Linked DNA regions of Homo sapiens: regions 1, 2 and 4 are each linked to region 3. Evidence: fine-mapped expression QTL. A gene starts in region 3. Each other region holds a variant in brackets. All regions are shown on one strand. Distances are between the middles of the regions.

Region 1 (5,000 bases), 380 kb after region 3:
TGACCTTGGGCAAGTCTCTTAACCTCTCTGAGCTTCTGCTTCTTAATCTGTTAAAAAAAAAAAAAGCATAATTTGTCTTATCCTTGTTTTGATCAAATGAATGAGTTCTGGGAAATCCATCCAGCTGGTCAGTGGAATCCACGTGCGAGCACAGCAAGGCCTAACGAATTTGCTGACGCTCCTCTGACCACCTAGCTTCACAGATGGGTGGGCAGCCAGACCTACAACCCAACCCACGTCTGCCAAGTCCCAGCCTTTCCATTCACCTTTCAAGGGAAGAAAACTTCTCATGTATTGGAAAGCACAGTGCCTCTAGTGCCTCTCTTTCTTGATTGTTGGAGTTGGGTCTCTCAGCATTGTGGTTCACTACGACAGAGCATCGCTTTTAACAGCCACATAAAATAACCCTCTTGGGTAACACACTCAAGAGGCTTCGTGAACTCGGGAGGCAATCTGGGCAGGCTTACAGCTGTGTGACAACACAAACGCTGTTTATTTGAGTGTTATCAGGAAGATGTGTCACTGTCATGGTTGAATATGGAGAAACAGGTGCCCGCCTCGGAATGGCTACCCAAGTCAAGGAGGACCCAAGGCTAATGTGGAGACCACGTTCCTCCCTGGAGTACCGGGGTTAGGCAGGGCTTGAATGAGGTGCAGCGAGGCCGGTGAAACACAGCAGTACCACGTGTCTTATGTCACATCAGCAATGCAGGTCGCGCTCGTCACAGACATTTCAGATGGAGCTGGGTATTATATTCCAGTCCTGGCATTTATTATGGTCACCACCAGCACAGAGCGTTCCTGGCCTGGTGCTGTCTGGTTTCTGGAATACAGGCCATCCTTCCTGATATTCTAAAGCCTGCCTCCCACCCTCAAAGAGTCAGACGGCAAGTTTCCATCCACCCTCCCAGTTCTCAGCCTTTGAAGGTGAGAAGCTCCTCTTCTAGGGGCCGCTGTCAGAATCTCAGGGTTTGGCACTGTTGCGCTCGCCTCCATTCCCCAGGCTCCTCGACGGCCTTAGATGCTTAAACACGCTGCTGCCTCTCATCTCTGGACCAAGGCTTTCGTTTCCCTGTGAGTAGACAGCACTAAGGCACGGGGTTAGTTTAATGATGCAAGTCAACTGGGGAGCCTTGCTGCTATAGAGATACCCTTTGTATGTTTACTTTAACTTCTTGCATCAGTCAATTCAGGCTGTTGTAGCAGAATACCACAGACTGCACAGCTTAAGCAGCAGCAATGTATTCCTTATGATTCTGGAGGCTGGGGAATCTGAAGTCAGTGTGCTGGCGTGGTCAGGTCTGGTTTGTAGATGGCTATTTTCTTGTATCCTCACATGGCAGAGAGCACAGAGCAGGCTCTTGAGTCTCCTTAGAAGGGCACTAAGCCCATTCACCCTCATGACCTAATTACCTCCTGAAGGCCCCCCTCCTAGTGCTGTCACATTGGGGAGTTAGGATTTCATTGTATGAATCTGGGGAGACACAAACATTCAGCCCATAGCACTTCCCCAGCCGTGCAACACAGGTGCCCTTTGGTGGTGTTTGCATAGGTCATGGCTGCTGATAGCCACCGTGTGTTGACTGCCCACTCTGTGCTTGACGCTCTGCTAGAGGCTCTTTATGTTGTCTTTAATCCTCACTTCAGTGCTGCAAGGGCTGTGTTATTCCCAGCTGACATATGAGCTTCCAGGAGTTTAATGGATGGAAGCTCAGCTGGCACATGGTGGAGGCAAACCCAGGGATGTCTGACTCATTCGAATGTTTCTTTCGTTAAGTTAAGTCTTCCATTCAGGAAACCAATATTGCAAGTTCAACGTGTGAAAATGTCACTAGGCTCCACGGTGCTAGAGAGGTGGATCCTGATGATGTCCTGTGCTCACGGCGCTTACTTTGATTGGCACCCAGAGAGAAGACATGAGCAACACTGGTTGTGTTCAGATGAGAGACAGTGCACCTCAAGGGAAGTGTTGGTGAAGTCCTCAGAGGAAGGAGGAACGCAAAGGCCTGTGTTCAGAACACCGTGGTGCCCTGAGAACAGCTGCCAAGGATGCTCGCTGGGAGCCACAGGCCACCAGGGGGAAGCGCCAAGGCCGTCTTTCAAGATGCAGTTACATCATCACTGAGCAGCACCAGCTCAGGGCTGCTCCAGCAAGCCTAGACCCACCCTGCTTCCCTGCGCCACTCCCCAGGGCCTGCTCCACACCACCCACAAAAGGCAGGCGGACAGTGGAAGAACACTCCAGGCCCCCAGCTCCAAAGGCTCAGATAGCCGCTGTCGTCAAAACCTCATGTCAGGCTCTGTTTTTCTTTCCTTTCTTTTCTTTTCTTTTCTTTTCTTTTCTTTTCTTTTCTTTTCTTTTCTTTTCTTTTCTTTTCTTTCTTTTATTATTTCTTTCTTTCTTTCTTTTTTTTTTTTTTTTTGAGATGGAATCTTGCTCTTGTTGCCCAGGCTGGAGTACAGTGGCATGATCTCAGTTCACCACAACCTCTACCTCCCAAGCTCAAGCAATTTTCCTGCCTCAGCTTCCCGAGTAGCTGGGATGACAGGTGCATGCCACCACGCCTGGCTAATTTTTGTATTTTTAGTAGAGACAGGGTTTCTCCATGTTGGTCAGGCTGGTCTCAAACTCCTGACCTCGTGATCCGCCCACCTCAGCCTCCCAAAGTGCTGGGATTACAGGCGAGAGCCACCGCACCCAGCCTTTCCTTCTCCCTTTCTTACCCGACTTCCTTGGAATTGGTATTCAGGACCTTCCTTTTCTCCTGGTATCTGCCCAGTGATCCAGGACAGCGCTCAGCTCCTGGTAGCCCTGGGCTCTGTGGTTTCAGGCTGGGTGCATCTGTTCCTGTGCCCTGATCTCAGCCTGGCCCAGCTCCTTGGCCTCTCCACCCTCCACTTCCCTTGGAAGAAAAAATGGGGGTAA[C/T]GGTAAGGAGGTGCTCTGAGTAAAGCAGTTTCCGGGTCCAAAATAATTCAAAGAAATGAAGAGCAAAAATCACAGTACAAGTAGTTTAGCTTTTCCTCAGTTAATCTGCCATAATATTAAGTAAAGCTAGTTTTAAGTATTTAGGCTCTAATGAATTCCATGTACTAAGTTGCCTGGCTGTTTTCTAATACATGTTATTTGAAGATTCTCTTGAAAATTGCTTATATCATGCTGCTATGTTACAAGAACATGGTTTTCACGCATTCTGGTATGGAATGTGTATGTTGCTGTCACTTATTTAATAATAATAGTCACAATTAATCAGTACAAATATTTATGGCCCTAAGTACCCTGAGATCTGTTGCTTGATACATGTCTGAACATTTTGGACAAAAAGAGGCCAGTGTGGGACAATGAGATAGCCTTTTAATAGAGAGATTCTTTTCTCTTAACAATGATCTAGGGGTTTTCGGGGGGAAACACACACCCCCTTCTCCATCGGGACCGAAACTGCTCTTGTCCGTGTGTTCTGTCACACGTAGATGAACAGGCTTTCAACACCTGCACTGGATTTTATAATGCATTGGGTTTGGTTATTGTCATTATTGTTTTTACCAGTTTATTTATTCATTATGGTGCTAGCCACAAAGCTTATGCATGCTGAGCGTGGGTTTCAAATTTTGAGTTTTTTTGAAACATTCAAGACACGGAAGTGGGCATCACAGGTCATGAGTTCTGTTCGATAATGATGTCACTGGTCACCCATGTTGCTTTTGACTTGGTAAAAGAAAAATTGTACTTAGGAAAAGCTGCCCTCATATAATGTGTACTCATATGGTAGTTAAATAAGTCCAGTCAAGGGCTGTAAGACAGCCAATCAGAATCTTGTTTCTAAATGGGCATGTTTCTAAACTGGTCTATGATGTGCTAATGGACAGAATTTTGCATTTGGAAAATTGCCATCACAAACTCTTGAGCCTTCCATTCTTAAACCAGTTGCAAGGGGCTTTACCAAACTGACTTATCCAGGTTACAGATATAACAAGTTCCTGTAGGTAATGGCTCTCATACTAGACTGCAAGTTTTTTTTTTTTTTTTTTTTTTTTTTTGAGACAGAGTCTCACTCTGTTGCCCAGGCTGGAGTGCAGTGGCACAATCTCAGCCCACTGCAACCTCTGCCTCCCAGGTTCAAGCAATTCTCCTGTCTCAGCCTCCCAAGTAGCTGAGACAGGGACTACAGGTGCATGCCACCGTGCCTGACTAATTTTTGCATTTTTTTTGTTTTTGTTTTTTTAGTAGAGATGGGGTTTCAACCTATTGGCCAGGCTGGTCTTGAACTCCTGACCTCAGGTGATCCGGCCGCCTCAGCCTCCCGAAGTGCTGTGATTACAGGCATGAGCCCCCTCGCCCGGCCTCATACTTCATTGTTTATAAGCGTGTACTGGGCACATTGTGAAACACAAACGTTCTCCCACCCTGTCCCCAGAGACTCCAGTTCAGAGGGTCCAGGAATCTGCATTTGACGTGCACACCCGGGGGTTCTAAGGCTATTTTTGTACCATCATTTTGAGAAATACATGAAGCTATTTCAAACACTCCTCATAATGTCAATTAGTCTTCTCCTTCTGTCCTAGGAACTAGATAATTATTATTTCTTTTGTCCAAAATCCTTTGGATTATACAAATGCATTATATCTGGAGGCAGTAATTAAGCTCTGGCCTGGCCCACTTTTCTCCAGATAAGTACACTGATTACCTTCGCGTTTCCTTACAGGTCCAACTTTCCAACAAAATCATCACTGTTTGCTTTCCTTTAGGCCTACACGTTCTTTTCCTCTGTTACACAATGTCTGAAGTAAAACAAAGATTTCTGTCTTTCCTTTCATGTTGTACATGTTGTGACTAAAACACATGCCTCAGGTCTCAGTCTATCTTAAACTGTGGTTATTTCTTTAAAATCCATTTTACCTATAAGAACAATAAAGGCGTCTTCAGGCTTTTTAAACCTGTAACAATTTAAAGACATTGGGTCATAAAATAATGTTTAACCTGGACTGATACAATTAAAATAAAA
Region 2 (5,000 bases), 830 kb after region 3:
TTTCTTAGGAAGCTGATGCCCAATGGCGCCAAGCCATAGAAAGCCTCCCTCAGCTCTCCCTAGGAACGAGGTCTGCATTTTCATTCATCAGAAAGAAATAGCCCAATTTGATCGGAAACCTAAAATCAGGAGGCTGACACATTAGCCTGACTCCTCCCACTCCCACAGTTCCCCCGTCCACCACCACCATATCCTCACCGAGGAGCCCACAGGCCAGCCTCCCACGAGCAGCTGAGATGAGCTGTGGAAGGGAGCTCGTCCCACCCCTGTGGAAGGCAGCGGGCAGCTGTGTAAACCCGACTAGGGCCGGTGGGCTCCTGTCTCCTAGAGACAGGTTGTCTCTGGGCTCAACTTGGGATTTTCTTCACGATTGTTTCTTTTGGGTCCTACGTGCTCATGTGTACACACACAGACACCCTGGGTCATGTGCTAAGGAGCAGCAGAAATGCCTCATTTTTATTTACTCATTTGTTCACGTAGCTAGTGGAGGAAGCCAAAATAGTTATCCCCAAAATATTGAGACCTGCTAAGTGAAAGATACTGAAAACACAGGGACTCTCTGCCTCTGCCCCTGTTTGCCAGACGCCAGGACATCCATCCTTCCTTCCTGGGGACAGCACCTGCTCATCAGCCCAGAGAGGGTCCCAGCCGTTGCCAGGGTCTCTGGGGGCAGATTGCATTGCCTTCTCACAGGTTCCCTCCTTTTAAAAGACTGGGGGCTGGGCATGGTGGCTCACGCCTGTAATCCCAGCACTTTGGGAGGCCCAGGTGGGCGGATCACCGGAGTCCAGGAGTTCAATCAAGACCAGCTGGCCAACATGGTGAAACCCCGTCTCTATTAAAAACACAAAAATCGGCCGGGCGCGGTGGCTCACGCCTGTAATCCCAGCACTTTGGGAGGCCGAGGCGGGCGGATCACGAGGTCAGGAGATCGAGACCATCCTGGCTAACACGGTGAAACCCCGTCTCTACTAAAAAAAAAAAAAAATACAAAAAATTAGCCGGGCGAGGTGGCGGGCACCTGTAGTCCCAGCTACTCGGGAGGCTGAGGCAGGAGAATGGCGTGAACCCCAGGGGGCGGAGCCTGCAGTGAGCCGAGATTGTGCCACTGCACTCCAGCCTGGGCGACAGCGAGACTCCGTCTCAAAAAAAAAAAAAAAAAAAAAACACAAAAATCAGCCAGGTGTAATCCCAGCTACTCAGGAGGTTGAGGCAGGAGGATCGCTTGAACCTGGGAGGCAGAGGTTGCGGTGAGCCACGATCACGCCACTGCACTCCAGCCTGGGCAATGAGCCAAACTCCATCTCAAAAAGAAAACCGTAAATAAATAAAAGACTGGAGCTGCTCTCTCCTTTGCCTGGTCACTATGCTGAGAGTTATGGCTCTTTGTTAAAATACTGTGTAAACAGGGCCCCTACACCACTGCCTTAAGAGGCACTGGAACTGAGGCCTCCGCCACGTGGAGGGCACAGCGCACGCCAGGAAATCTCTTCCGGTTTTCCTCTTGTTCATCTGACTTTCATTTTCAGGACAGTGACAGTGTCTCGACCAGGAACTCATAAGGGTTGAGAAAAGAAATTATATTTTCTCCTCTTTACTAGAAAATGTCTAAAAATATCTCTAACTCCACACTTGACATTATGGCTTGGCTTGAGGTAAAATCCAGACAGACAATAATTTCCATCTAACAAGCAACAAGCCCACAGCCTGCAGGCGTCCTGCTGCTGGTTGAGGTCCAGAAACCGGAAGGACCCCAGCCACTTCGTGGGGGAAGCAGAAGACCACAATGCGGGGCAAGGTCCCAGCAAGGGTGAGGCAGGGACCCAGGCAGCACTGGCCCAGAGCACTGAGGCCCAGAGCACCAAGCGGCTGCTGCCAAGGCTGGGCCGTAGCAGGAAGCTCATGGGAAGAATCCCTCTGTGGCCAAACAGGTACAAGACAGGGGCCTCCTCCCAGGAATTGGGAACAGAAGGCTGTGCAGGTGGGATGGGGTCTCACTGGCTTGACTCTGAGCCCAGAAGCATAGAACCAGAGCTCCACAGATTCCTGCCGACCCCTAAGGCTCATCCCAGAGCCCGCGTGCTTGGAGTCACAGGCTCTGGGTGGGGGCCCAATAGCAGCAGATGGACCCCATGCAACAGGGGCTGCGTCTCCCAGAAGGGGCTCTGCGGCTGTGGATTAATGGCTCGCAGTCGAGAAGCTTCTATACCTGGAAGTGCTACAGAGTTATTGCAAGGGTGCTTTGAGGTTTTAACGTGAACATGCTGACTTGGCACTAAATAAATAAAAGCAATAAATAATTATATTGGAATGCTAAGGTTGCTTTTTATTTGAAGAGGGGTTTTCATCCTTGAAATGGATGGAAAACATGGCTCTGGGCTACAGGAAGACAAAGTGGCAGCAGGATGTGCACTGAACCCTCTTTCCCCTCCTCGACCTCACAGGACGATGCTGAAGGAGCAGTACATTGACAGGACGCGCGTGGCCGTGTTTGGGAAGGTGAGTCTGCGCCACCCTGGTCTGAAAACCCCTCAGTTCCAGTGTGGCCTGCACCATTACCCACGTCTAATCCTGATTTATTGAGAACGTCTGTGGTCTGCTGGTGAGCAAGTAATTTTTTAAAATCAAGAGCCTGGGTGCTTAGTGATTCCAGCCGTGGGAGGTTTCATTTGATCAGCTCATTTTCCTAAGTTTCTTTTTACATTATCTGGAAGGAAAGAGAAGGGAAGCCAAGTCCCCGCAGGAGAGCTCTAATACATTCCTAATGACTTTTCTCCCATCCATCTGCTGTAGCTCTTGGCATGGTAGCCAGGAAAGAAGCAAAGCAGGAATCTATTTCTGGATAACTCGATGTGGAGTAACAACGTTAATTACCATGTCTACTTAGACGGAAGCACAGGTGTGGGGAGGGTCGCGCAGTGAACTCTCAAACCAGAGCCGCTCCCATCTGGTGGCCCTTGTCAGAAGGCTGTAGCCTGGGACAGCTCAGCTGTAGCTGAGGCCCACGGTTTGGAGTTAGGTC[T/C]CTGCACCGCCACCTACTATGGCCCTGGTACATGGCCCCTCATTCTCCTTAGCCTAGACCTGGGGCCTCTTGATCTCAAGAAGGCCAGCACACAGATGGGTCGGTATAGACCCATCTTCCCTCTGGGAGTGACCCTCAGCACAGGCCCTGCAGAGGAGGCCTTGCTGTGACACCCCCGCAGGTGAAGGCTTGGACAAGTAATCAGCACAGTGCCTCTTACGTCATCGCCTCCAAAACCTCAGAGCCCAGCATGCACTGGAGACCCGGCCCTGCCCTGTGGGCTGCTCCCGGAAGCAGGGGATGCAGGAGCCCTCCCACACCTCCTCCTTACCTGCCGGAGGTGAAGTGGTCAGGAGGAGGGCCGGCGGCTTCTCTCCTTGTTCAGAGCCCGGGCACAGAGCCCTAGAGGTGCATTCCAGGTGCCTAGATGTCCACTCACTGCCTGTGAGGCCCGAAGCCACTGGGTCATTGGTAGGTGTAACTTGGGTGTCAATAGCCATCACCTCTCCCCACCCTCATGGAAGTGACTTCCCAGCAGACTGGCAGCTGAAAGGCAGGGAGCCTGGGCCGTGGTCAGTCTTTTCCAGTCGTCACTCTGCCCCAAATGCACATGGATGCCACTCCTGAGGGCTTGGCCTCCTTCCTGTGCCTTGCATATAGTCCATCCACTCAGGGCCTTTCATAGTTCACTTCTGGACACAGAGAGGCTTTCTCAACAGGCAGTTGGTCCAGAAGCACAGGCAGCCGAGGTGCCAAAGGGAAAGGGGACCCTGTGCACCTGTCAGAGCACAACTGATGCACCCCCACACCCTGTACCCCCGCACTCAGCTCCGCCGAGGACATCTGTCTGAGCTCCGTGCTGGGGATCTTTCCTTTGCCATTCTGCCCAGTGGATCCCGGGCGTCTTTCCAGAGCATAAGCATCTCTGTTTTGTTTTAACAAGCCTTAGATAGAGGTCCGTAGACCCCACAATGGTATTTCTCCTCTGAAGAATAAAGCGTCAATCCTTTTAGTGGCTTGGCATGTTGCGGCCTGTCCATTCTGTTTCCTCCTCGCATGTGCCCCAGTGATCTGGCTGCAGCCTTTGTCAGGCATCGCAGGACCTGGGACACAGAGCCCAGGGGAGCAGCAGCCACCCTGCACCCAGAGGTGACCTGGAGAGCAAGGGGGCACCTGTGCGTTATGTTCTGCAGTTTCCCCCCCGACACCGAAAATCCCCCCTGCAGAAGATTGCCTGTCTCTCATTTAAACCAGAGCAGGCCGCGTGGCCCTGCAGGAAAATGAGATTTAAAGAAAACGAAGAATGACAAGTAAGGACGTGTGGAGTTCACTGACAATAAATATTATTTGTCAGAAAATGAAAATCTTCTTTCATTGTCATTAGACAAGGTGCCCCTGCCCTATTAAAGGAACACACCGGAACGATCGTGCAGGTCATAAATGGTTGATCTTGGAGTTTGGCATGACCTGCGCTTCACGGTCTCAGTCAGGTACCTGGGTTCTCTACACTCCATGCTCCCAACACGCATGCTCACAGACTCACATACACATGGATGCTCACCCATACACATGCTCACACACACATGCTCACACATTCACACACATGCTCACCCATACACCTGCTCACCCATACACATGCTCTCACATACATGTGCTCACACATACACACACATGCTCACCCATACACATGCTCACACATTCACACACATACACAAATGCTCACATACACGCTCACACATACACACACATGCTCACCCACACAATGCTCACACATTCACACACGCTCACCCATACACCTGCTCTCACACACATGCTCACACATACACACACATGCTCACCCATACACCTGCTCACACATACACATGGTGTCACACACACGCTCATACACACACATGCTCACACACACGATTACATACACCTGCTCACACACACACACATGCTCACCCATACACATGCTCACACACACGCTCACATTCAC
Region 3 (5,000 bases):
ATATTTTCTTAGATAATTTAATTGAGATTTTAAACTTTAGTTAGATTACAGTTACCTACAATGCCTTGAGAATATAGTTTTTAAAAGTGGCACATATGCTTTATCCCAATAGTATTCTATCTATGATTAATATGCACACATCTATCATTGTATTTTGTATAAACTATATTAGTATGACATTTAGTTTGTGTAAAAATATGCATGCATATTTCATAGATAGCGTATGTATATTACATAAGTGGGACCCTAACTGCATCTATATTTAGTGAAATGTCAGGATCGCGATGCTGCGGTGAATAGCATGAGCTTTCTTTCATGTCCATGTTAGGAGAGGCAGCTTCCTCCCATCAAAAGCACAGCTGGGGCAGAGGAGGGGGTTGAGAGCAAGGTTTTCTATCTATCTAATTGTGGTGACTTTTAAAGTTTAGTTTTATGGCTCTGTTGCCTCTGTCTTCAAAGTCAAATGGAGCAGCTGAAGCTCTCCCCACCCCAGACCCACCTGCCTGGCCTCTCCCATGCAGCAAGTTTCGCTTAGCTGTTGCAATCCTGGTTTTACTTGGTTTTGTATTTGCTATTTTTTAAAGTGTTTTTAAACTCATGTTTCTTCATAGTAAAGGGTAACTACTGTGGAGTAAACAGAAGATGAGCGTGGTACAAATTTTGGTTAAACCAAAAACTACACACTGGATTGAAAGCTTGGGGAAGGGAGGCAGGTGGAAGGGACTGAAGGAGGTCTCTTCCCAGGAGACTTGTTCACCGGCATCCAGTATTCTCCCCCGCAGTTAGGGAAACAGAGGGAGCATGCAGTTTCAGGCCCAGGCAGGCCTCTCTCTGGGCTTGGGGCAATGCCAGGGCTGGGGGCGAGCCTGCAGTCAGCCTTGTGAGTGGCAGCCGAGGCTGTTATTTTGAAACCCTAAGTGGAAACAGGCATGGAAACCCGGAAGGAGCAGGGAGCCTTAGGCAGTCCTGGGAGATGAAGCCAACGCCCTACCTCCATGTGGAAGGAGGCGGCGGAATGGGCAGGGTCGGGTCTCACAGGTTCCCCCCTCTGGAGTTGGGGTTTCCCGGCCCACGTTCACTCTCTGGATGTGATAGGTCCTTCCCGGCCGGGAAGGGCTGGAAGGGGCGCGCAAGGAGGACGTGGGGACGAGACGAGAGAGACGCGTGCCCAGCAACTCCAGAAGGACGGAGAGGAGTGCAGAAGGGAGCCGGGGAGGACGCGGGAGGGCCGGGAGGGGAAGAGAAGCCAGGCCGGGCCTGGAGCGGAGGAGCGGAGCCCGCTGGTGCGGGTGTCCACACAGGGGCGCTGGAGCGCGCCTTCCTGCGGCTGGGCAGGAGGCAAGCCCGAGAGCGCGCGGCGAGTGGAGCCATGTCGCCCTCCCTCGCTCTCGGCGGGCACAGTGAGGCGCAGGCTTTGGAAAAGTTGCGGGCAGCCGGAGAGCCGAGCCTCCGCCTGCGTTCATGATAATGAGAATGGAGTCGCGGTCACAGCCGGGCTCTCTGCGGGGCGCATCGCCCGCGAGGGGCGCCTGGGCCTCTGGGCGTCCTCTGCCGCCCCGCGACCTTTCCTGCCCTCCTCCGGAGAGAGGCGAAGGGAAGGGGCGGTTTCGGAGGGAGCTGGGCTGTGGAGGGAGGGCGGCCTCTTCACCAGCGTCGTCCGACCACCCCGCGCCCTCCTGGTGGCTCTCCCACGCCCCATTCGCACCCCAGGTCCTCGGGGTGTCTCTGGTGTTGCTTCAAGTTAGGCAAGAGGAGCTGGGGGCGCGGGGAGCCCGGCGCCGCAGCGCGTGCGTGGCTGGGGCGCCCCGGGGCCGGCTGCACCTTCAGTCGCCCCCTGGCCGGCCTGCCTGCCTCGACCTCCGCATCCCCTTGCACCGTCCGCTCGCGTGCTGCGGGGCACTCGCAGCACTACCTTCGGTGGGGCCGCAGCACCCTGAGCTCCCGGGACTCCCCCACCGCCCCCGCACCCACGACCCGCGTGGTCCCAGCCCCTCCACCCTCTTCACGCACCCTCGCACCCTTTTGTGCGACCCCGTGCCCTCTCCGGGCTGCCAACCCCTGCCACCCAGGTGCCAGTCCCGGGCGCGGGGAGGAGGCCGGTGGGGAAGGGGGCGGAGGGGCCGGGGTGGAGGAGGAGCTGCGCGAGGGGCCTGGGGGCGGGGAGCGAGGAGAGCGCTCGGAATGTGTGCCGGTCTCTAGGTGGTGCCAAATTCTGGGGCCTAGGCATTTCCCTCGCTTTATGTTTTTGGTTTTTTTTCTTCCTTCAATCTCTTTGATTAGGCCGTACGTGGCTGTGGCAAGGAGTTGGGGAAAAAAATTATAAAAACAGGAAAGAGAGAAAGCACAGCCAGAGCCCCGGCTTCGCGAGCCGCCGGGGAGGGGGCGGAGGAGGCTGAGCCAGGCAGAGTCGCCAGCGGAGACTCGCGAGTGGCGCGCGGGAGGAGCGGCCGCCGGCGCTGGGCTTGCCTTGCTGCTGCTGCTGCTGCTGCCTCCCCACCGCCTTTTTTTTTTTTTAATCTGGAGCGGGGTGGGGAGTGGGAACCGGAGAGAAAGCAAAATATTAAAAAGCCCCAAAGACAGCCAGCAGGAGCGCGGTGCCCGATGGCTTCGCTGTACCAGAGGTTCACTGGCAAGATCAACACCTCGAGGTCCTTCCCCGCGCCCCCGGAGGCGAGTCACCTCCTGGGCGGCCAGGGGCCCGAGGAGGACGGCGGCGCAGGAGCCAAGCCCCTCGGCCCGCGGGCGCAGGCGGCGGCGCCCCGGGAGCGCGGCGGCGGCGGCGGCGGCGCGGGTGGCCGGCCCCGGTTCCAGTACCAGGCGCGGAGCGATGGTGACGAGGAGGACGTAAGAGCTTCTCGGGGGCGGGGGGCGGCGGCGGGTTCTCCGGGCTGAGCGCGCAGCGAGACGCGTCGGCAGGGGAAATTTTTTTTGGGGGGGGAATCAGGCGCCCTCCCCCCGCCCACGACTCTCCGGGCGCCCCCAGACAGGCTCCGTGGCGCCAGATCGCGGTCACCGCGTCCCGGAGGGAGCGGGTCTGTGTCTGCAGCCGCGGCGGCCGGGAGTTGGTGGCTGGAGAGAGCGGGGTTTGGGTACTGCGCCTGCTGGGATCTGGAATTCGCCTTACGTTCCCTGGGTGCGCGGATGTCTGTTTTTAACAGCATGCTGCTATGGTTCCTAAGGAGAGAATTCGATCGGCCTGTGCTTACGAGTTGGTTTATTTTTTATTTATTTCGTGCTCCGGGAACACAGCCTCAGGCACCTTCTCTCCCTCCCACCTGTGTCTGGAATCTCTCCATCGTGCCCCTCCTCTCCTACTCACTCTGTCCCTTGACTCAAATGCCTCTCCTTCGTTCCTCTTCTTACTTCTCCTAGACACTTTTTCCCCCCAGCGGTGGTGATGGTGATTATCCTTTCCGGAAAAAAAAAATACCAAAATACTGGCATCTGAGCCCCAACCCTCTGTCCCAGGGCCCAGCTCTTTTGCTGAGAGCCCTCAGGCCGTGTCTGTCTCCCCTCCCAGCCCTGGACTAGCACCTCTGCCTTAGACCGTGTTCAGTGAAAACTTCTCCGAGAGCACATTTCCTACTCTTCATGGGGGCTGGAAGCCTGGGTTTCAAAGGTTGGATTTGCACATCGCCCTAGTAACCAATGACTCATGCAGGACAGGAGCCGGACCTTAGATGGATGCGTTTAACCACCTCCTGTGGATCCCTTTCAAGGATGCAGAGGGCTGCTAGGACTTAGAAGGGAGGAAACTGTGCTTTTTCTTTGAGGCCTTCTTTTCCCAGGGAAAAGAGAAAAATCCCCGACAGGCTCTCAGAGAAACAGGTCTGGCTTGGCTGGTACAGCTCTTATAACAGCTAGGCTGTGTTGGTTTGTAGAAATTACTATGTATGCCTTTGAGGAGTTTCACAACTGCTCAACCTGGGAACCGCAGGGGTCCCACCGGCCTCTCACTTAGTCTACCCTGACATACCCAGGGCAGTACATTGCCGGGCACTGAGTAGGTGGTTTTGGTCATTACCTCTCTGCAGCCTCCAGCCACGCTGGTTCCCTGTTTCGTATTTCTTTAGTGCAAGAGTTGTGTTTGGGTCGAGGGAGGGGTGAGACATTGAGTGATTTCCCAGGGACAATTCCTAATTGCCAGATACTATGAAATCAGTGAGGTTTTGCTGTTGTTATTGGTAGTTTTTGTTTTATGAATGAAGGATGTGGAAACTTTAATGGAGATCACAAAACTTTGTGGGAGATGTGGTTTGCACACACACAGGTACACACCCCCTACAGCCCTGCGTCAGATTTTGCATGAGGTTTTGTGATTTTCTCCTGCATCGTTTCCAGACTCCCCTGGTTAAATAGTCATTCAAAGGCATGTCCCTCACTTTGGTGGGCCAAGCCCTGAGGGAAATAGACAGATCCTTCAGTCATCTGGTTCAAGTCTTTGGCAAATGGTTTAATTGGGGGAGGGTGAAGAGTTCTGGAGGATTAAACTACCGAGAATCTTGGGGAAGACAGTTAAGCTGCAATGCAAACAGGAAAAATGTACTTTTTACCTTAAATCTGACTTAAAATTGTTGAATTGTGGATGTTTGGAATGAGAACAATGTGCAGTTTTTTTCTCAACAGGCTCTAGGTGTCGCTAGGAGAAAGGAAAGGCAAGAGCTCTGAATTTTATTTCAGATGATCTCCATCTTTTTTTAAAAAAATCTTAACTTGGAGTATACATGTCCTTCTTTTTATTGTGACATGTGTCTAGAAATGATTCTCAGATAAACACAGGTGTCCTGAGAAACAAATCAGGGATATAACATGTACATTTGTTAATGGGGTTCTAAACAGCATCTCTAACTTAGATGTAAGTCCTGACATGCTTTTTTTTTTTTTTTCTGGAAAATACACAATGTGTGTGGGTGGGCGTGTATTGTGTGTTTATATAGTGTACTCCCGATATATATATGCACACATATATACTTGCCCATTATCTGCACATATATATCTGG
Region 4 (7,621 bases), 530 kb before region 3:
AGGAAATAAAACATCAGGACTTTATCGGTATATTAGCCAGGGTTCAACAAGGAAAATAGAAACCACCTGTAGTTCTTAAACCAGAAGAAATCTGGGAGGAAATTGCTTACTTTGATAAAGGGAAAGCTAAGAAACCAAAGAGGTGACCTTATGCCACAGAAGGGATTAGCAACAGCAGGCAGCTGTTCTTACATTTCAGTTCTTAAATGTAAGAGATTTTGCACTTCAAAATACACCATAAGAAAATTCGAAGGTAAGTTACAGGCTATTAGGTAATATCTGCAAATCATACCTCTGATAAAAGATTGATATGCCAAATATATAAAGAATACTTACAACAACAACGATAGCAACAAGCAACTCGACTTACAAATGGGCAAAAGACTTGAGTGACATTTCACCAAAGAAGACATATAAATGGTTACTAAGCATTTGGAAAGGTGTTAAACATCAATAAACATTAAAGAAATGAAATGAAAACCACTTCACACCCACTAAAGATGTCTACAATTTTTAAAAAGACACACAATACAAAGTTGATACTTCTACATTTAGAAAACCTGGAACCTTGGCCGGGCACGGTGGCTCACGCTTGTAATCCCAGCTTGGGAGGCCGAGGTGGATGGATCACCTGAGGTCAGGAGTTTGAGACCAGCCTGGCCAACATGATGAAACCCTGTCTCTACTAAAAATACGAAAAACTAGCTGGGCGTGGTGGTGGGTACCTGTAATCCCAGCTACTCGGGAGGCTGAAGCAGGAGAATTGCTTGAACCCGGGAGGCAGAGGTTGCAGTGAGTCCACATCGTGCTGGCCACTGCACTCCTGCCTGGGTAACAGAGTGAAACTCCGTCTCAAAAAAAAAAAAAAAAAGGAACCTCATACATTGCTGGTGACAATGTAAAATGGAACAGCCACTTTGGAAAATTGTGTGGCAGTTTCTTAAAAAGGTAAATATAAACTTCCCAAAGACCTTGTAATTACGCTTCTAGGAATCTGCTTGCAATAAATAAAAACATACATCCTCAAAAAGACTTGTATGTGAACGTTCATGGCAGCATTCTTCAAGGCGGCCCAAACTGGAAACAACCCACATATCTGTCACCTGGTGAATTCAGAATTTGGTATCTCCATGCAACGCATTATTATTCAGCAATAAAAGAGGAACTACTGACACCTCCTATACCATGGACAGAACTCCAAAACATGCTAAGTGAAGGAAGCCAGACACAAAGAATCCTTATTAAATAGAAGTTTACGGAGCCAGAAAGCAGACTGGTGGTTGCCTGAGGCTGGCGATGGGAGCATTGATTGACTGCAAGGAGGGTGATGGGAAATTTTTGGGGTGATGGAAATGCTGCAAACTGGATTGTAGGGATGGCTTAGCTGCACACATTTACTGAAAGTCATTGGATTGTGCCCTTACAGTGGGTGGAGTGGGGTTAAATTACATCCCAAAACAGTTGTTAAAAATTACAAATAGGGGTCAGGCATGGTGGCTCACACCTGCAATCCCAGCACTTTGGGAAGCCAAGGCAGGTGGATCACCTGTGGTCAGGAGTTTGAGACCAGCCTGGCCAACGTGGTGAAACCCCATCTCTACAAAAAATTCAAAAATTAGCTGAGCATGGTGGCAGGCATCTGTAATCCTAGCTACTCAGGAGGCTGATGCAGGAGAATTGCTTGAATCCGGGAGGTGGAGGTGCAGTGAGCCAAGATCGCGGCACTGCACTCCAGCCTGGGCAACAAGAGCAAGACTCCATCTCAAACAAACAAACAAAAAAAAAGTTGCAAATAATATATCTTGTTGCAATAATATAGACTCAGCATCAACATGGTCATGTTGTCTCTCCTGTTCTATCTCTCCCAGTCTGTGAGCTGCTCTTGAAGATTTTGCACCCATTTCTGACAGCCTTATTGTTCCATTTCTAGTAAAGTTCACAGGTATTAAATTCCTCATTAGAACATGATGTTCTTCATTCTGAAAACTGCTTTCCTTCAAGCAATTATTAACCACTCTTGTCAAGGCCACCCCTCATGCCAGCTGGCTACAAGTCTCTGCACACTCTTGGACCATCCATCACCAAGGAGCAACATCTGCTGCGTGCTTTTGCCTTCGCTGCCTTATAAAGCAGAGGGAGATCGGAGTCCTGCGCCTGCCTCCATGCTTGTACTCGGAGTTGCTTTTCTGACTCAGAGCTAATATAAGCCTGACCTCACTCCTCCCTCTGGAATTTGAAACAACAGAAGAACAAGGACAGTGCAGAACCTTTTAATGGGTTTCAAATCTCCAACAAGATTCTGCACAGGCAAATGATCCATATACCATCATGAAGTAAAACAGGAGGCAAGAAAAAAGGCAAAAGAAAAAAAAACTGGCAAATCCTGTCTCTGGGCTTATGCTCAGGAGCAGCTCAAATTTTTTCTTTCCTTTCTTTTTTTATAAAAGAAGTATTCTTTCCACGCTTGAGCCTATCAGGGTGAGATCTGCTATCTTTATTTTCAAGTATTCAGTCAAAACCAACCAATCAAACAAATGAACAAACAGAAAAAATACTCATCCTCTCTGCCTACAGCCCACACCCCCCAAAAGATAAAAATAATCTTGAACTCTGGCTCACAAGTGAGGTAAACAAAAATTTTAGTTCTGACTCTGCTGCTGTGTAACCTAAGGCAAGACCGAAAGACTTGGAACGGACTCATTTTTGTCCAAGAATCTCCTAGGAAAGAGGGATTTGTCTTCTTAGTTTCACGAAACCGAACTACAACAGTAGATCTAATGGCATGTTGAAAAAATAATTTCAACATATTGTGATTAATGTCACATTTCCTAACCCACTGAAAAGAAACTGAATGTCGGTATTCAAAAATGAGTAGAATGATTTATTCTCTTTTATTAATTACTTAGTATTCTGATGCTTAGGAGCAGGCATAGGTAAAAGTATGGAGACAGAATTGATTACATAATTTATCATGCAAAACAGGATTAAGGAGTGAAAAAACGCAGTAGTCATCGTGCTGGGACTGCGGGAATAAGAAGAACTGTCTTGGGCCCTCCTTAAAGTCTACTTGGTTTCGCCAATTTAAGAATTTCGAATGGAGCTTGATTTGCTTGGCAGGCAAGCTGGCTTGGGTCCATCGGGAGCCTGGGCATGGGGAGGAACATGCCAGTGTGAGTGCCAGTGGAGGGAGAGGTGGGCAGAATTCCCCATGAGGGAGAGGCACTGGAAAGCTCTCTTCCCACGCCTCCTGGAGCTGCCACGACAAACTCCTGCAGACGGACAGCTTGAACAACAGAAGTTTATTTTTTCACAATCCTGGAGGCTGGAAGTCCAAAATCGAGATGTCAGTTTCTCCTGGGCCTCCCTGCTGGGTTTGCAGAAGGCCGTCTTCTCTCTGAGTCTTCACATGGTCGTTCCTCTGTGTGTGCCTGTGTCCTCATCTCCTTTTCCTATAATGACACAAGTCAGGTTGGATGAGGGCCCATCCCTATGGCCTCATTGTAATTTAGCTATTTTTTAAAAGACGCTATCTCCGTAGACAGTCCCATTCTGAGGTGCCAGGGGCTGGGACTTCAGCACATGCGTTTTGGGGGGAACGCCATTCACCCCATAATGTGGGCTTTCTTACATACCTGTGACTGGAGCCTTGACGGCGCCTCAGTCAGAGCTGATCACCCAAGCGCTCCCAGTCTCTGCCCTCCCTAGCTTGCTCTGACCCTGGCATGGCCTCAGGAGCCCTCTGTAGAGCTCCCTGCAGCACCGCCTCTGTGCCAATCCAGGGTGTGAGCCAGGGAGCAAGACAGACGGGGAGTGGGGAGGAATGAATTGAACAGCCTCAGGGTATGCACGCCAAATGCAGAGCAGGCCCGTGCCTTTAAACAGAGGACCATTCCTTTCCTTTTAAGCCTGTTCTTGGCCTCCCCCGCCCACCTCTGCAGAGACCAGGG[G/A]CTGAGGCCAGTGGGGTGGCGTTTGTTTTGGTGACTGTGTTTATGTTCTCACTTCAGGCGGCTGACAGGAACACACTGCTAATGAGAGCTTTGCCTGTTAGGGAGATGCTGTTTATGCAACTTCCAAAGAAAAAGAACAGCCGCCTGTGTACTAGGTGTTCACAGGGTGGGAGGGAGCTTTTTGGAGCCTCTCCAAGGAGGAGGTGGAGGGAGAGAGTTGTAGCTGGTCCACTAGCTCCGTGTATGAATCCTCTGCCCTGGCACAGCCCCATCATACAAGGTCATATCCTCCTAGAATGAGAGAAAGGAGTGGGCAGATGCCATCCTGGTCCTCAGTATGCTCAGAGCTCAACAGTAGTCAAAGGTTAAACAAAGTCACATTAAAACTCCCCAGGAGGAAGCATTCAAATAGCAAAAAAAGCAAAGTTAGGAAATATAAAATGTCAGCTAATATATGATTTCCCCCTTTGGCTTATTCGTTCCTCAAATCCTACTAGGGTGGTGTTACAGGGGCGGCCCCAGAGTGCTTACTCAGGGGCCATGTTTCTGGGGGTAACACTTCTTTCCTAGAGAAGCCCTCTAGTGCCTTCCAATGAACCATGCAGTGAATCTGAGGAAGCCGTCATTCTGATTCAGTGAAGAAGAATCACAAAGATGGCTGGCATTGCAGACCTGCAGAAGACCTGTCATCTCAGAAAGTCTTTGGACCTTCCTTTCAGTGCTCCTGCTGCTGCAGGGGTGTCTCCCAACTTGAGCTTCTTGAGCAGCAACTCCATCCACCGCCTCAGCTGGGCCCTGGTGTAGGAGCTCTGCTATAGGCATGGTGGGCTCCCTGGTCTATCCACACAAATTGTGACTGAGCTGAGGGTCACCCACTGCACTTGGTCTCAGTCCACAAGCCCCTGATGGTTCAGAAGGTGACTTGGAGTAGGATATGACTTCTTTTTAATGAAATGGCATAGACTATAACTTAATAAGGCATTGTTTCAAGAACTAGCTAGTTTTCCTGTAGGGGAAAGTGGCACAGAGCTCGGGCAGAATCATCCTATTTAGACGGCAATTTGTGAAATATTTTTTAAAAGGTTAGTCCTCCATGCCCACTGTTTGCATCCTGGGTTTGGACTTGGGAGCAGAAGGATGGAATTGGCAGTGGCAGGCACATCACATATGCAAACCGAGACCCTGTGAGAAGATGGTTTGAATGTCCGAGATAACACTGTTATTTCACCAGTGAGACACGGGAGCCTAGAAGAGTACTGATCCCAATCAAAGAAACCCGTGTGCCTTCCTGGCAGCATGCCTCACTCCATCCTCCAGGTCCTCAGAGCACTTTCTCCACCCCACTGTGTGCTCCAGGCACGATGCAGACAGTCACAGACCTCTCTCTACAGGAGCCATCTCTCAGGATCCAGAGCAGGGGTGAGGGTCATGAGTGCTGGTGTTGGTCACACGTGGGCCCCAATCCCAACCTTGCAACTATGATCTCTGCAATACTGGGCAGGCCCCTTAGTTGCTCTGATCTTTGGTCTTCTCATTTGTTAAGTTGACAGAATAATAGTAACTCTCCCACAAGGTGGTTATGAGGATTAAATGAGATAATGCATGCACAACATTCAATACAGTAAGTGCTCAGCCTGTGGTTACTGTGAATATCCTTGAGGCTAAATTGGGCATCCTTAAGATTAAAGAAAAAACTCACAAAAAAACAAAAAATAGCACTTTGCTCATATCCCTAGTGTCCAGCAGAGTGAGCGTATGTAGTAAATGTTCAATGCATAACAGCTGAATAGATGAATAAACAAATATATTCATTGCAAATCAGATTGCACAGATATATGCACATTTGGCCTCCTTTTAAAAATAATGTTAACACAGAATAATTTATTTAAAAAGAGTTTTACCAGGGAAAGAAAGGGAACATTACATCCAGAGATTCTAGCGGAAGAAAGTTCCTACATTTATAAGTAATACTTAGTTCTGAACTCTATAGCAACCAACATTTGCCTTATATATATTTATATGGGCTGCACACAAGATGAAAAATCAAGAGAGCAGTAGAACATAGTGGTAAATAATACAGATTTTGGAGCCATCCTGCTTGAGTTCAGATCCCAACTCTACCACTTTCTAGTGGTCTGACATTAGCCACTTAACCCATCATATTGGTGCCGTCATTTTCCTATCTGTGCATATTCCATAGGATTATGAAGATTAAATAGGTTAATTTGCATAAATCACTTTTATATGGCTTACTATGTATCAACTACTGTTTTCTTTTTGCTTTCCATTGAATTTGGGTATTTATTCATCACCTTGAAGACGACTGCATAATCTGCCTCTTCCTGTGGGATTTAAACAACAAATTAAATTAACCATAGGGGTTATAATCATGTTGGTAGCTGAGATTTGTACCAGTGAAACAGTAAGAGGACCCTGAAGTCTTGTACTAAATGCCCAAGAACCTCTCCGTCCCCCACTACATAGTCGGGGATCTCAGGATGTGGGGAAGGTCGAGCTGTGGCTCCTCCAGGATGAGCGGGGTCTGCCCAGGATGAGAGCCCCTGACTGAGATGGCACGATGAGGGCGGTGGGGGCAGATGGGCAAAGCTGTGGAGGTGGGATCCACAAGGACTACAACTGGGGTGTGGGAGGGAATAGAGAAGTGGCGGGGGCTTCGTGCAGGACAGAAACAGGACACATGGCGGAGTGGGAGCTCGTCCACCGTGGAAGCCCTGACAGAAGGCCTGGCAGGGAGAAAGCGCAGCCTGCTGTGTGTGTGACCTCACTTGGAGATGAATATTGCCTGGGGAATTCTGGATGCAAATAAGCCCCCATTCGACCTTGGAGCACAACCTGGAGCCATGGCAGGGCCAGAATTGCATGTGACCCTCCTGCTGTCGTAGACCCAGCGCCTCTTCTCACTGCAGCTCTGTGTGTGAATGTGCTGGGTTGTTCCCTGTGTTCCCAGAATCCAGCTCATCGCATCCAGCATGGAGGAACAGGTTGACGCTCCCTTATCCAAAACGCTTTTTGGATTTTGGAACATCTGTGTCATACCTAATGAAATATCTTGAGGATGGGACCCAAGTCTAAACAGAAAATCCATTAATGCTTCATATGCACCTCAAGCACATCACCTGAAGGGAACTTTAGACAATATTTTTAGAATTTTGTGCATAAAGTTTTGACTGCATTTTGACTGAGACTGATGACATGAAGTCAGATGTGGAATTTTCCAATTGTGGCATCATGTCAGTCCTCAAAGAGTTTTGGCTTTAGAGCATTTTGATTTTTGGATTTCTGGACTAGGGATGCTCAAACCTGTACTCGATTCATTGGATTAATCCAAGGACAGAGAAGGATGGAGCTAGAGAATTAAGGTAGTGGGGGCTGGAAAGGGGCAAAGAGGCTCCCACTTGTAAGGGGAGCAGGGGCCTCAGGGGAAGCCTGGGGAGTCGGTGGCTTGATGACCTTTGTTTCTCTTAGGATGGGACCACTTTGCCTTCCTTTTCCTGTAGTCAAGCCATACTGCCCATGCTGTCTTAGGCCGTTCTTGCATTGGTATAAAGAAACACCTGAGACCAGGTAATTTACAAAGGAAAGATGTTTAATTGACTCATGGTTCTGCAGGCTGTGCGGAAAGCATGACACCACCATCTGCTTCTGGGGAGGCC

Alleles and levels. Alleles are on the strand shown, and positions count from the first base shown. SD is a standard deviation of normalised expression in the study named.
With allele T in place of C in region 1, the expression in skeletal muscle of the gene that starts at base 2,179 in region 3 is lower (moderate effect, 0.42 SD a copy in GTEx).
For the expression in cerebellum of the gene that starts at base 2,179 in region 3, C is the low allele of the variant in region 2 and T is the other (moderate effect, 0.59 SD a copy in GTEx).
With allele A in place of G in region 4, the expression in sigmoid colon of the gene that starts at base 2,179 in region 3 is higher (small effect, 0.26 SD a copy in GTEx).

The links.
Region 1: its variant is fine-mapped to the expression of DPP6 in skeletal muscle (GTEx, PIP above 0.99).
Region 2: its variant is fine-mapped to the expression of DPP6 in cerebellum (GTEx, PIP above 0.99). The same link has a PIP of 0.9 or more in cerebellar hemisphere and testis.
Region 4: its variant is fine-mapped to the expression of DPP6 in sigmoid colon (GTEx, PIP above 0.99). The same link has a PIP of 0.9 or more in esophagus muscle and gastroesophageal junction.

What each region holds. Positions count from the first base shown.
Region 1 is chr7:154,429,129-154,434,128 of GRCh38, forward strand. All of the region lies in intron 1 of DPP6 (dipeptidyl peptidase like 6), which reads left to right. Among named protein-coding and RNA genes, the nearest start is that of DPP6, 380 kb to the left of the region's middle. The variant C/T (reference allele first, on the strand shown) is at 2,927.
Region 2 is chr7:154,878,444-154,883,443 of GRCh38, forward strand. It overlaps DPP6 (dipeptidyl peptidase like 6), which reads left to right. Exons shown (of 26, transcript NM_130797.4): 21 at 2,445-2,499. Among named protein-coding and RNA genes, the nearest start is that of PAXIP1-AS2, 48 kb to the right of the region's middle. The variant T/C (reference allele first, on the strand shown) is at 3,023.
Region 3 is chr7:154,050,220-154,055,219 of GRCh38, forward strand. DPP6 (dipeptidyl peptidase like 6) reads left to right here and starts at 2,179. Exons shown (of 26, transcript NM_130797.4): 1 at 2,179-2,844. The coding sequence starts at 2,602. RefSeq lists an enhancer at 1,070-1,672.
Region 4 is chr7:153,520,377-153,527,997 of GRCh38, forward strand. It overlaps LOC107986750 (a long non-coding RNA gene), which reads right to left and starts at 3,855. Exons shown (of 2, transcript XR_001745034.2): 1 at 3,633-3,855; 2 at 2,861-3,449. The variant G/A (reference allele first, on the strand shown) is at 3,948.